4 linked regions of the Homo sapiens genome follow. The protein of the gene in region 1 purifies or fractionates together with the protein of each later gene. This does not show direct contact. Each region holds a gene or a part of one and is shown on either strand. Other genes may lie near its edges.

Evidence for each region. The genes of interacting proteins can lie anywhere in the genome.
Region 2: the proteins of PRICKLE3 (region 1) and FARP2 purify together in Homo sapiens (affinity purification with mass spectrometry; 2 studies listed by BioGRID and IntAct, with this or other methods). This does not show direct contact.
Region 3: the proteins of PRICKLE3 (region 1) and PIP4K2A purify together in Homo sapiens (affinity purification with mass spectrometry; 2 studies listed by BioGRID and IntAct, with this or other methods). This does not show direct contact.
Region 4: the proteins of PRICKLE3 (region 1) and ARMC8 purify together in Homo sapiens (affinity purification with mass spectrometry; 2 studies listed by BioGRID and IntAct, with this or other methods). This does not show direct contact.

The regions. Positions count from the first base shown.
Region 1 is NC_000023.11:49,176,374-49,179,873, forward strand, and holds part of PRICKLE3 (prickle planar cell polarity protein 3), read right to left. Parts: intron 3,434-3,500; coding exon 3,320-3,433; intron 3,016-3,319; coding exon 2,878-3,015; intron 2,103-2,877; coding exon 1,899-2,102; intron 1,807-1,898; coding exon 1,620-1,806; intron 830-1,619; coding exon 530-829; intron 1-529. UniProt on the Homo sapiens protein: Involved in the planar cell polarity (PCP) pathway that is essential for the polarization of epithelial cells during morphogenetic processes, including gastrulation and neurulation.
Region 2 is NC_000002.12:241,432,785-241,436,284, reverse strand, and holds part of FARP2 (FERM, ARHGEF and pleckstrin domain-containing protein 2), read right to left. Parts: intron 2,128-3,500; coding exon 1,964-2,127; intron 1,324-1,963; coding exon 1,255-1,323; intron 1-1,254. UniProt on the Homo sapiens protein: Functions as a guanine nucleotide exchange factor that activates RAC1. May have relatively low activity. Plays a role in the response to class 3 semaphorins and remodeling of the actin cytoskeleton.
Region 3 is NC_000010.11:22,704,579-22,708,078, forward strand, and holds part of PIP4K2A (phosphatidylinositol 5-phosphate 4-kinase type-2 alpha), read right to left. Parts: intron 848-3,500; exon of another isoform or gene 1-847. UniProt on the Homo sapiens protein: Catalyzes the phosphorylation of phosphatidylinositol 5-phosphate (PtdIns5P) on the fourth hydroxyl of the myo-inositol ring, to form phosphatidylinositol 4,5-bisphosphate (PtdIns(4,5)P2). Has both ATP- and GTP-dependent kinase activities.
Region 4 is NC_000003.12:138,193,801-138,197,300, reverse strand, and holds part of ARMC8 (armadillo repeat-containing protein 8), read right to left. Parts: intron 1-3,500. UniProt on the Homo sapiens protein: Component of the CTLH E3 ubiquitin-protein ligase complex that selectively accepts ubiquitin from UBE2H and mediates ubiquitination and subsequent proteasomal degradation of the transcription factor HBP1.

The sequences.
Region 1 (3,500 bases):
GGGGGCAGGGGTCGGAGAATGGCAGGGAGGTGGGAAGTCTGGGAAGTGTGAGGCCTGGAGCAGGCTCTGGGTGTTGAGAGGGTTGGAAGGAAGAACACGGAGCAAGATGGGACTGGTGTGGGGGGCGTGGCCAGGGCACCCGGGGTGGCTTCGGATGGAAGAGGTGTGGCATAGGCTGGAGTAGATTTGGTTTGCAATAAAAGGGGTGGGGCCTGACTGCAGAGGATGAAGGGTGACCGGCTGGAGAAGAGGAAGAGGAACTTGGGGTCAAGCAGAGACAAGTTGAGGTAGGGGACCAGCCCTGTATTGACAGGGTGGAACCAGGGTTCATGAGGCGGGTGTAGTTTGGGATGGAAACCAGGCCTGGACTGGTGTGGGGAAGGAGGATGAGCTGAGAAATGGGCGGGGCCCAGGGATACAGCAGGTGAAGGGCCTGGGCTAGTCAAGAAGGAAGGGCCAGGGCTGAGGCAGGGGCAAGGACATAGGGGTGACTGGGCTGTGGCTGGGTGTGGCTAGAGGGTTAGCTCACCTGGCGCTAACTCTGTGCTGGTGCCTTTGGTGGTGGTCTCTGATGCCCCCTTCACAGCAGAGAAAGAGGCTGTGGAGGCTGCAAGTGGGGCTGTGACAGGGCCGGCACTCCAGCTGCGGCGGCTCGGCCCTGGAGCTGTGGGCTCGGACCCAAGGCTGCAGGCTCGAGAGCAGAAGATTAGGCCTCGGCGTGGCAGGAATGGGCGGCCCAGCAGGGCCCGCCCACAGCGACTACAGCAGAAGCAGCGGTCTGAGGCATGCCAGTGCTGGCCCTCGTAAGCCATCTGGCCTTGGTCCAGGCCTGTGGGGAACGACGAGGGGGAAAAACTGAGGCAGAACCCCCAGGCGTAACCCCACCCCTCGTGAACGAGTCCCTTCTCAAGAAGAGGTGGGGAATCCGAGGCAGGGCACCCCTGGGTGCCTTCCTCCCTCCTCCAGAATGGGGCCCTTTTGGAGAAAGCAGGAAACAGGTTTTGGTTCTCTCCTGGAGACTGGCTGGTGAACCTCTCTCTCACTCCTCCCTTTCTTTCCCAGGGTGCTCTCTCCCAGAGCGGGGTGGGCATTGGACTCTAAGATTCGGGCCAGGCTTAGACATTAGGGGGTGGCTCCAAGTGGAAGGAGAATGGAAAGCTGGGCCTGAAGAGGAGGCCTGGCTGGTGGGGGCAGGGCTTAGCAGGTGGGGAGTGGCCCTGTTGAGAAAGGAGTGGTTCTCAGAGGATAGGGTGTAGCTAGAAGCTAGGCCTGACTTAGGCTGATACAGGAGAGTGGAGGAGAACGGGGCACAGCTTGGGGTGGTAGAGGCTAGGAGTAGGGCGAGCCCTGGGGCTGGAATTAGAGCACCCTCTGGAGGTGGGTGTAGACATGTGGTGGTGGCCTAGCATTGTGTTAGGTGGGGTTTAGAAAGCATGGCATAGTGGGGACATTGGGAGTGGGACTTGCAACCAAGCGTACAGGTCTATAGTGTTGGGGCTGGACAAAGTACAGGGCACAATGGAGGATGGGGCCTGGAGGACAGGAGGAGTCCTGGTGGGGTAGGACTGTGGCCCAGCTGTCCATCCATCCCTCTGTCCAGTCCCACAGCATTCACCCACCGATGTGCTCCCCACAGCCATCACAGTACTCCGCGTGGCGGGCCTCGTAGCAGGCGCAGCAGTGGGGGCGGCTCTGACGCATGACATAGCGCTGCCCTCCTAGTGAAGCTTCACACTCAAAGCAGCAGAAGTGATCCATGTGCCAGTGGCGGCCCTCAGCCTCCGTGCACTCAGGGGAGAAGATGATCTGGAGGGCGCAGGCCATCTGTGGCTGTCAGATGAGCCTGCTCCTGGCCCTGCCCACCCTCAACTCCCACCCCTGGGCAGGGAGGCCCAAACCTCGTCACAGGCTTGGCAGCGTGGACGCAGGCATTCGGCATGGTGACGCCCGCAGTAGACCTTGCCAACATGGTAGAAGTAGATGAGGTCAACCAGCAGTTCCTGGCACGTGGTACACACGAAGCACTGTGGGTGCCAGCAGGCACCCAGGCCTGCACGGCTGGCAAACACTGCGATGTCCCCACCTCCAATCTGCTTTCCGCACTGCCATGAGACAAGCACCAAGATGGTTACCATCACTGTCACCAAGATGGTCAGATGGATGGGGTCAGCCAAAGTATGTTACACTTGGGCCTTTCCCACAGTGAAACTTTGTGATCAGCCCCACCCATGGGGTAACTTTGACACAGGCCCTGCCTATACCAGGGATGGGGTTGGGCGGTACCTTAGAGACTGACCCTGCTCATGAGGGAAGCCGTAGAGACAGGCCCTACCCATGGTGGGTGGCCTTATAGGCAAGCCTCCCTCATCAGGGGTGGGGAAGACAGACAGGCCAGGCCTAGTGGGGGAAACCACAGAGATAGTCTCCACCCACCGGGACCTTAGCAATAGATCTCACCTAACAGTAGGATCTAAGGACAGGCCCTGCTTACCACTGGGCCCTGCAGACAGGCCCTGCCACTGTGGGTCAGCTCTTGAGGACAAGTTCTGACCACAGGAGGACCAAAGAGATAGCCCATGCCCCATGTCCACTGCACAGACGGGGAGAAAAACACACTAAGGCCTCCTTACAGACAAACCCCACACGACAGTGGGATTGATGGGACAGGTCCCTGTCCACCAGGGGTTGCCTTAGAGACAGTCCCTGCCCAACAGTGAGATGTGAGGAACAGACCCCGCCCACAAGAGGGGACCCTAGAGACACCTCACTGGGGCTTAAGTGGCAGGCCTCATCTTCCCAGTGCTTGGAAGATGTGTCCTGCTCCCCAGGGCTTGGAGCAGAGGCACTGCTCACTCGCTGAGGCCCTCCACGGCTCACCTCCTCACAGATGGCCCCAGTGATGGTCACCGGGAAGATGCGCACGATGCCACGCCCCAGATTCTCCCGCTTCCGCTGCTGGCTAAAGGCTCGGAGCTCTTTCTTTTCCTCCTCTTCCAGTGCTGTGCAGTACTGTGCCTGGGAGGAGAAGGCATCTCCCAGGCTCCTCCCTTGATGCCTGTCCCTGCCCCTCTTCCAGACTTCATCCATGCCCCGAAAGTTTACTTCTAGGTCTTTCTATAGATGGTGCCTCCTGCCTGAAGTAACCACCTCTTCTTCCAAGGCCCAGCTGTGGTTTTGCCAAGGAATGTCCCCTGATGACCCCTGCCTGTCTGGACCACTCACCTCAGATCAGCTCACCTTTCCTCCTCTGACCCTGCCCTGCATTGGCCCAGGCTGTGTGCTGTGCCTGGCATGCCCTTCCTGTCTTCTCTCTCCTCACCTCACTGTCGTGTGGGGGCAGCTGGTGCAGCAGCTGCTTGATCCTGTATTTCTCCCCAGGACTGTTGACGTAGGGGACCTTGTCCTCTGGGAGGCAGCTGAAAAATTGATATACCTGGGAGGACATAGGAGTGGGAGAAAACAACTGAAATGAGAGGTGAGTTGGGATGCAGTGAGATGGC
Region 2 (3,500 bases), on another chromosome or scaffold:
TTACACACCCACACTAAAGGAAAAAATTCCACGTGCGGAGAAACAACAAGAATTTTCAGATTAAATGTTTACTATAGGCCGGGCGCAGTGGCTCACACCTGTAATCCCAGCACTTTGGGAGGCCGAGGCGGGTGGATCACGAGGTCAGATCAAGACCATCCTGGCTAACATTATGAAACCCCGTCTCTATTAAAAATACAAAAAATTAGCTGGGTGTGGTGGTGGGTGCCTGTAGTCCCAGCTACTTGGGAGGCTGAGGCAAGAGAATGGCGTGAACCCAGGAGGTGGAGCTTGCAGTGAGCCGAGATCACACTACTGCACTCCAGCCTGGACGACAGAGCAAGACTCCATCTCAAAAAAAAAAAAAAAAAAAAAATTTACTATACTATGTAAAAATATATATAAGCTAAGCTATACAGAAGAGAAACTAAAAATATCTCTATGTGTATACAATGTCTATATAAAAATATTACAGGCCGGGGGCAGTGGCTCACACCTGTAATCCCAGCACTTTGGGAGGCCGAGGCGGGTGGATCATGAGGTCAGGAGGTCGAGACCACCCTGGCTAACACAGTGAAACCCCATCTCTACTAAAAATACAAAAGATTTGCCAGGCGTGGTGGCAGGCGCCTGCAGTCCCAGCTACTCGGGAGGCTGAGGCAGAAGAATGGTGTGAACCCGGGAGGCGGAGCTTGCAGTGAGCCGAGATCGCACCACTGCACTCCAGCTTGGGCGACAGAGCGAGACTCCGTCTCAAAAAAAAAAAAAAAAAAATTACAAATCCACTTTCTTTAAAACATTGAAACTGAACTCCTGTAAAAATACACATTCATGTATTTGAAGTGACTTTCAGTCAAGTAAAGATTAATATTTAAAATAGGCTGGGCATGGTGGCTCACACCTATAATCGCAGCACTTTGGGAGGCTGAGGTTGGAGGATTACTTGAGCCCACATGTTTGAGACCAGCCTGGGCAACATAGCAAGACCTTGTCTCTACAGAAAAAAAAAAAAAACAAAAAAAACTAGCCAGGGGATAGTGGTGTGCGCCTATATTCCCAGCTACTCGGGAGGCTGAGGTGGGAGGATTGCTTGAGCCCAGGAGTCTGAAGCTGCAGTGAGCCGTGATCATGCCACTGTATTCCAGCTTAGGTGACGGAGCAAGACTCAGTCTCTCTTTTCGCTCTCTCTCCATATATATATTTAAATTTTAATTTTAAAAGCACACACTTTACATCATAAAGGCCAGAGCTTACCTTTCATATGGAATTCTCTTCATTCCACTGTCTTTGAAATAATCTACTAGTTGTTTCTGAGTTCTTCCACTGTGAATAAAGATTCAGATTTTTAATAAAGAACAGTAAGTCAGCATTAATTTTTCAGAGTAAAAGACAAAAGAAAAGATTTACCCATCCTCTCTCATAAATATACACACATATATTTTATTTTTTGAGACTGAGTCTCGCTCTATTGCCCAGGGTGGAGTGCAGTGGCGTGATCTCTGCCTCATGGGTTTAAGCGATTCTCATGCCTCAGCCTCCCGAGTAGCTGGGATTACAGGTGCCCGCTAACACGCCCAGCTAATTTTTGTATTTTTAGTAGAGATGGGGTTTCACCATGTTGGCCAGGCTGATATCGAATTCCTGACCTCAAATGATCCACCCGCCTTGGCCTTCCAAAGTGCTGGGATTACAGGTGTGAGCCACCGGGCTCGGCCCACATACATATTTTAAAGTTATACTTTGTAGTAAGCGTAACTGAATTTGTAAGCAAAGTTTTTATTAAGCGTATTTTTTCCGTTATTTTATTTCATATGCTTCCTCTAGTTATTCTTTCACAATACCTCCACTTTGTGTGTAATTCTCTGAAATATTTTATAACACTTCTTTCTTGACTAGGAATTACCTATTTTCTCAGCTTTACAAACCAGTGAGGGGCCCATGCAAGCCACGGCATGGCCCCTACCTGTATCTGAAGGAGGAGCCCCGGCTGAAGAAGACGGCTTTTGCTTTTGGCTTAGGTTGGTCCAAAAGTCTAAAAAAGGTGTGATACTCCACACAAATCTTCCAGAAGTTCTTACATTCATCTCTACTACCCAACAAAAATTCTAATGTGTCCTGGTAAGGTCCCTAGAAACAAAACACAAAGGTTAATTAATTCAAGAATGAAGTATTGGACAAGAGAAAGTACATTTAGGAAGCAGATCACACGATAGGGAATTCCAAAATTAAAAATCAGTAAGGTTTTTTTTTGAGACAGGATCTTGCTCTGTGCCCAGGCTGGAGTGCAATGGCGTGATCTTGGCTCACTGCAACTTCAACCTCCCAGGCTCAAACAATCCTCCCACCTCAGCCGCTCCCCTCCTACTGCTCAGTAGGGACTACAGGCTCACAACACCAAGCCCAGCTGATTTTTGTATTTTTTGTAGAAAAAGGGTTTTGCCATGTTGGCCAGGCTGGTCTTGAACTCCTGAGCCCAAGTGATCTGCCCATCTCAGCCTCCCAAGGTACTGGGATTACAGGTGTGCACCACTGCACCCAGCCCAGGAAGGGTTTTTCTAAAAGTTGTATACAAAGTCTTCTGGTTCCATCTGCTTAATTAAGAAAAGATAGACAGTATATATATTCATAGTAGAACTAGCAGAAAAATGAAGTCACCCACAATCACACAACTATCAACATTCTGAATTCTATCTTTGTAAACACTTTTTCTACCTAGCCTTGGCATTTTTCATGCCAACTGACATATTTACATGTTATTACTGAATTGTTTCTACATGGTATATATTTTTAAAATCTAGGATATTTTAGATGTCCAGGACATGCAGTTTTCAGGCCTACAAATATTGCCCTGAAGGAACTGCATTCACTCTCAGTTATTCCTTAGGATAAATTCCTAGAAATGGAAATCTGAGCTCAAAGACTGCACATTTTTGAACCTGCTGATGTATGTTACCCAATTACCTTCCACAAAGACTGTAATACTTTGAATCTAACATTTAGTCTTTAAAACGTGCTTAGGTAAGTAAAATGTAACTTTGCTAAGTGCAGATGCAAACAGTTCTGGGCTTTGACTTATCGCCCTATTCAAGTTAATAGCTGCTTTGGTGAACTTTCCCTATCATCTCGAATAACTGCAGGAAACTTTTTTTTTTTTTACTTACAGAGTAAAACAGCTTTTACTTGTGTTTCGTATGTGTGTTTGGCATTCCTTCTACTTCCCCTTCATCCACAGGACAGATATTTGTACAACAATTAAAGCCACTTTCAAGCCTTCTACCAAAAGCAAACACACTTACACAAAGCACGTGAACCCAGTGTGTACCAAAAGCCCTACTACTCAAGTGCCTTTTAAAGGCGTAGGCAAAGCTTTTCTTCTGACTGGCCCAAAGGCTCTAAATCTCCCATAACCCAAAATGTGTCTGGGCTGACACAGGCATGGCCATCTCTTAAGCTTCAAACCCCATGGTAGCTTGGCAAATCTACTTTTTATTTTCTAACTC
Region 3 (3,500 bases), on another chromosome or scaffold:
GGAGTTTGAGGCAGCAGTGAGCCATGATTGCACCATGCACTCCAGCCCAGGCCAAAAAGCAAGACCTCATCTGAAAAAAAAAAAAAAAAAAAAGGAACAGAAAACACGAGAAGACACTAAAATGAGAGACTAAGGGTGAAGGAGAGCTTCTGCTGTTACTGTAGTTTATTTTGCTTTCAAGATGGGCGGCCCCGGAATGGTGAGCCATGTCAGTGGAAGACACTGCAATGGTGGGAATCGTCTATATCTGCACTGTTCAATCCAGTAACCACTAACCACATGTGGCTAGTGAGCACTTGATATGAGAAACTGAATTTTAAGTTTTATTAGCTGAAATTTAAATTGCCATATATAGCTAGCAGCTACAAAACCAGGCAGGGCAGCCCCTCCAGCATGTCTGTAGACTGACGGACCCAGCTGTCCAAAATTTAGATGGGATGGTGGGAAGAGTGGAAGCTGACGGCTTCTATTTGTTCAATGCTTTCTAAATGAGGTTATATGCTGAGGGAAGGACGGGGTGGGGGAAGTGGGGGACAGGACACTAGGTGAAGTTCAAGGAGAAGTGAAAAGGAAGAAATGACTTCAGAGAGTGGAGAACATATTAAAGGAGGCAGTAACACTTCCGGGTCGAGTGTCATTTGAGATTTGTGGCAAATTTTAAAGTAACCCTGGTCAGAACTGCTGGCTTTTCTCTGGCAAACATCAACCACTTGGCCCTTCAAAGGTGGCCTCAAACTACTCTTTCAACCATCTCCTGACACTCCCTTTATGTTCCTCTGTGGTTTTCAATTTTCTTGGCTGCAGGATCTTTTTTACCCCCTTTACGTATTATATTCAGTACCCCAGTTAAAAAAAAAAAAAAAAAAAAAAAAAAAAAAAAAAAAGGACAGAGAGATGACAATGAGGACAAAAACAAGGCTGTTCTGGAGGAAACTGAGGTAGGCCTAAATTCCCCCACCAGCTTGGCCCCCTCCCACCAGCCCCTGAGGCACATCTAAGGAATCTCAGGGCTTGAAACCAAAGATTTACCCTGATGGGTGTTTCTCAGACTTAAATATGCTGACGATCAACATGTCTTGTTAAAATGTACATTCTGCTCCAGCAGGTCTGCAGAGGCCCAAGCTCTGCATTTCTAACATGTTACTGGGTTCTGCCACTGTGGCCACACCCAAAGCCAACTACTCACATTCTCCGCTCTGCTTGGTTTTGCCCGCTGTCGGACCCTCAGCTGCATATGCCTTTCCCCATTGTATTAGTCTGTTCTCACGCTGCTGTGAAGAAATACCCAAGACTGGGTAATTTATAAAGGAAAGAGGTTTAACTGACTCAGTTCTGCAGGGCTGGGGAGACCTCAAGAAACTTACGATCATGGCAGAAGGGGAAGCAAACACATCCTTCTTCACATGGCAGCAGCAAGCAGAAGAATGAACACCCAGCAAAAGGAGAAGCTCCTTATTTAAAATCATTAGGTCTCGTGAGAACTAACTATCACGAGAATACGATGGGGAAAACTGCCCCCATGATTCAATTATCTCCAGCTGATCCACCCACAACACCTGGGGATTATGGGTACAATTCAAGATTAGATTTGAGTGGGGACACAGCCAAACCATATCACCCATCTTCTGCAGCTGGGAGATTCTATCTAATCCTCAAGGTCCTCCTCATTGTTACCTCCTCTCAAGGATTCTCCAAGTCCCCCAGGCAGAAGTAATCATGATCCAGTCCTGGTTAGCACCTTGGCAGATCTCCTACCACTATATCCCCCTCTTGCTGTGCTCCAGCCATGCCAGCTTTCCTGCAGTTGCCATAACAAGCCAAGCAAACACCAGCCTCACGGCCTTTGCACCAGCTGACCCCTCCGCCTGAAATGCTCTTCTCCCAAACTGCCTCATGTCTAAGCCCTTCACCGACGTCATGCCTTTGCTCAATGTTCTGCACGGTCTATTTAATACCTTCCACCCCTAGCATTCTGGACACTGTAGTTATTTACACATATATTTATTTTACGTCTGTGTCCCCTGTAGTTATGCACAATTTGAGAGCAAGGTCCACAATATATTCATTTTGCATCTGAAGCATCTTGCAGTGTCTCCATATTTAAAGACAAGGTGAAATATCAAGTCAATAGCTGACATAACTTGCAACTAATGGATGTGAATTAGATTTCTGACACTTCAAAGAACCTAATCGCTAGTGGAAGTGTGAAAAATACAAGAAAGAACATAACAAAATAGATACAGAAAGCAAAGCAAGGGCACAAGGGTAATTCTAAAATGATAATTCATAACTCAAAAATACACAAGGATGCCAAGAACAACGATGATGTTCTACTACAAAACAGGATAAAGTAACCATTGATTTAGCATACAATCTGATAATTTGCTACCTCTTAGCATTTAAGATATTAAAAAAAAAAATAGGATAGGCATGGTGGCTCAAGGCTCTATTTCCAGCACTTTGGGAGGCTGAGGTGAGAGGATTGCTTGAGGTCAGAAGTTTGAGACCAGCCTGGCCAATACAGCAAGACCCTGTCTCTATTTTAAAGGATAGTAATAATGACAGCTAGCACATTAAGAACTTACCATGTGCCAGCAACTATTTAGGCATCTTACAAGTATGAATTGATTTAATCCATATAACAAACTTCCAAAGTAGGTACCATTATTACCTCCTTTTATAATCAAGGAACTGAGAGGCAAAATAACTTGTTCAAGGTCACATAGCCAACCGAACAAGGACTCCAGAGCTCTTAATCACTGTGCCCAGGTAGCTGAAAAACTATAAAGATTTAGAATTGTGAGGCTTAGCTTTAGGTAAGTTACTGTTTTAAAACTCCCTACAACATTTTTCTTAAATAAATTATGTACTGGTTCTCTCCCTACATGCTCTGAACATTAACAATGATTTTCTTTCTATGAAGGGAAAAACTGGTTTTCAAGTAGTTTTCTCCCATGTTAACAGCTAATACTCTGTCCATCCAAGAAGAACAGCTCTTAAGACTAAGAAAATAAAAGAACTCAAAGAAATGAATGATTCCTGAGCTTGGCCCAGGCAGCACAGCTCAGTGGTTAACGGTACCGTTGTGAATCCCAAGTACTAGGCACTGTGACCCAGGCGGGTAATCAATTCAGCCTATGCGTGTTCCCCCCCAAGAATTCTTCCTGGCTGCTGCGTGCTCTCCCCACTTTCTCACCCCACACTATCCCCATCTTATTCTTGCAAGGGTTCTTGATGGGGTTCCATGAACTCCCAAGTGGTCCATGGATAGAATTAAAAGGATCCTTGAACTTGCTAGGACATATCCTCTGTATTTTCATTTATTCCTTTAAAAGCCTCATTCTGAGGAGTCTATGGCCTTCACTGGACTGCCATAGGAGTTCCTAGTACAAAAAAGAAAAGAAATGAGGATAAAGGCAGACACAGGGAAATAAGCTAGGGGGGTTTAATATCAGTCTAGGAAAGAGGGAAACAAATCTGGTTAGGAGTGACAGAAGTGA
Region 4 (3,500 bases), on another chromosome or scaffold:
CATGGTGCTTGCCTCAGACTCAGCCCATCATTTGCAGCAGCTGGTGCATTCACTTTCCTATTACAGTACCACTCAAGATCTGTCAGACCTGACCTGTCACCCACATTGTGGCCTGTGACAATCACGGCAATATCGCAGGCCACTTCGAATCTGTCTATTCCACTTTGCCTGTGTCCAGACCCACAATCACCTTACTTTGTAGTTTGTTTGGATCTCCAGATAACCTAGCTTTGCATCCCAGGCCTGCTACACAATGCCCTTTCTGTGAACAAAGTACACCTTCTAGGAGATTACTGGCATACTCTGGGTAAAAAATTGTAGCTCTTCAGAAACAATTCCCACACATAATAGCTCACATGAGTTTTAATACCTTATTGCTACAATCTTTACCATTCCAAAATGATTTTAAATGACTTAAAAAAAAATTTTTTTTGAGACGGAGTTTCACTCTTGTTGCCCAAGCTGGAGTGCAAGGGTGCGATCTCAGCTCACTGCAACCTCTGCCTCCCGGGTTCAAGCAATTCTCCTGCCTCAGCCTCCCAAGTAGCTGGGATTACAGGTGTGCGCCACCACACCTGGCTAATTTTTTTTTATTTTTAGTAGAAACGGGGTTTCACCATGTTAGGCTGGTCTCAGACTCCTGACCTCAGATGATCCACCTGCCTCAGTCTCCCAAAGTGCTGGGATTACAGGCGTGAATCACCGTGCCTGGCTTTTGCTACATTTTCTTGACTCACACTGGGACAGGTGAAGAAGTTAATTCTGGAGTGACTTCTGGGTTTCAGGGAATCCAGCAATCTCTAGAAATTATGCAACTATTTAGGCATATGCATGTTCTCCTGGGAAAGCAGGTATTGAGATTCTCATCCTTAAACAGCTAAGAACCAGAGATCAATACACTGATGATGCCAAAATAATGATCATGACCCCAGATTTAGGTACTCAACCTTTTTTTCCAACTGACTACAAATTTGGCATGTCCAAAATGAAACTCATTTTCCTACTTACTCCCCTAACAAATTCCTCTCCTAATTCTCACCGTCTCAGAAGATGATACCACCTGGCCAAAAAGGCATAAATCCTGTGAATCATGCTTTATCATAATGATCATCATGACTCTTTCCTTTTCCTTAGTCTCCCTTATCCCATCAATCACCATTAGCTTTCTGAAAGCCTAAGAAATTCTTAAAAACACCCCTAAGGCAAAAGAAGCATGTGTTCGATAATTACTTTCCAGGTGGTAAAGACCTCCCAATATTAATAGATCTTATAGGTTGAAAACTCCCCATTGGACCACAACTTTTTATTTTTAATATAAAGCCTTACACTGTTTCATCATTCCTCCTTCCTCTAATACCTACATTATGAATATGCTAGAAAATGTAACTCTTCATTCCTCTGAAATTAGGGAATGTGGTCAAAACAGTTTTTTTTTTTTTTTTCAACAAAATGACAAGTGGTGGGGCAGGGGGCTATTTCTGTAAAACTGCTCTTATTTGCAATACCTTTAATTTCTATCTCAACAGTCCCAGGGATCATAGCACTACTGTTCAGTGAAGGCAGCTGCTCTCCAATTTCTAGAGGATAATAGGAGCTTTGTTTTTTTTCATGTAATACCGTCTCTTTACCCAGAAGCCAACAGGACAGATGGTACTGCAAAACAAATGCCAAATCAGAATTGAAAAACATACAAGTCAGAATCACTGACATTCCTGTCTGCTGACAGTAAGTATTTTAAAATTTAGCGAAAATAGGAGGTGATAAGAAGGCTAGGTCTCAAAAGTAAAATCTGAAGACCCTACATAAATGTGTTTCTGATTCTTTGCAGAGTTTAAAAGACTTCCTGAACATGCACTATCTTAGTCTTTCCTTAAATACACAGCAAGATGTCCAGAAACATACAATGAGCACCTCTCATTTTTCACACACTGCCATTAAAGATTAGAAAGTTCACATTGATTCATTGATGAATTTATTTTTATTTTTTTGAGATAGTTTCTTTTTTTTTTTTTTTTTGAGACGGAGTCTCGCTCTGTCGCCCAGGCCGGACTGCGGACTGCAGTGGCGCAATCTCGGCTCACTGCAAGCTCCACTTCCCGGGTTCACGCCATTCTCCTGCCTCAGCCTCCCGAGTAGCTGGGACTACAGGCGCCTGCAACCATGCCTGGCTAATTTTTTTGTATTTTTTAGTAGAGACGGGGTTTCACCATGTTGGTCAGGCTGATCTCGAACTCCTGATCTCAGGTGATCCACCTGCCCAAGCCTCCCAAAATGCTAGGATTACAGGTGTGAGCCACTGCACCTGGCGATTTACTGATGAATTTATTTTAGGACCACCTACTGACATACCCTGTACTTATTAGTGCTTTGTAAACTAATGGCAAACTTTAAAATGTGCTGTACAGATTTTATTTTGCATTTATTACTAAAAACCTAGGGAGGCCAAATTTATGTTTACAGGATAGTGGGTTCGACTTCACAGCAATTTTTTTTCCTAATTATTGCCAGTTATGGATGTAAGAGAATAAATCATTAAGTAGCTATAGGCAAGGCCAACAATATGCTTATAACTGTAGAGAACAGAACAAAATGAAGGAATATCCAGATTTGGAATACCCTATACAGTTCTAACAGCTATTTTTCAAAAAAAAAAAAATAATGACAGCTGGGCACGGTGGCTCACGCCTGTAATCCCAGCACTTTGGGAGGCCAAGGTGGGCAGATCACGAGGTCAGGAGATCGAGACCATCCTGGCTAACACAGTGAAACCCCTTCTCTACTAAAAATACAAAAAAATTAGCTGGGTGTGGTGGCAGGTGCCTGTAGTCCCAGCTACTCGGGAGGCTGAGGCAGGAGAATGGTGTGAACCTGGGAGGCGGAGGTTGCAGTGACCCGAGATCGCGCCACTGCACTCCAGCCTGGGCGACAGAGACTCCGTCTCAAAAAAAAAAAAAAAAAAGCTGGGCGCAGTGGCTTACGCCTGTAATCCCAGCATTTTGGGAGGCCGCGGCGGGCGGATCACGAGGTCAGGAGATCGAGACCATACTGGCTAACACAGTGAAACCCTGTCTCTACTAAAAAATACAAAAAATTAGCCGGGCGTGGCAGTGGGTGCCTGTAGTCCCAGCTACTCGGGAGGCTGAGGCAGGAGAATGGCATGAACCCAGGAGGCGGAGGTTGCAGTGAGCTGAGGTCGCGCCACTGCACTCCAGCCTGGGAGACAGAGCGAGACGCCGTCTCAAAAAAAAAAAAAAGACGTAATGCCACTGGGAAAGGACTGTAAAGAAGACAATTAAAAATCAACAAGTGCCCAGCTGTTTATAATAGCCTACAAAGTGATTCAAAGACAATTTGTTACCTTACCTCTCTACCATTACAAAGTGACCAAAATTAAATGCAACCATCCTTTTAACAGGGTCTTTCACAGAGCGTAAGTTTTCATTTTGGTAAAGTCCAATTTATCAATTTTTTAATAAGTAATGCATTTGGTGTTATGTCTA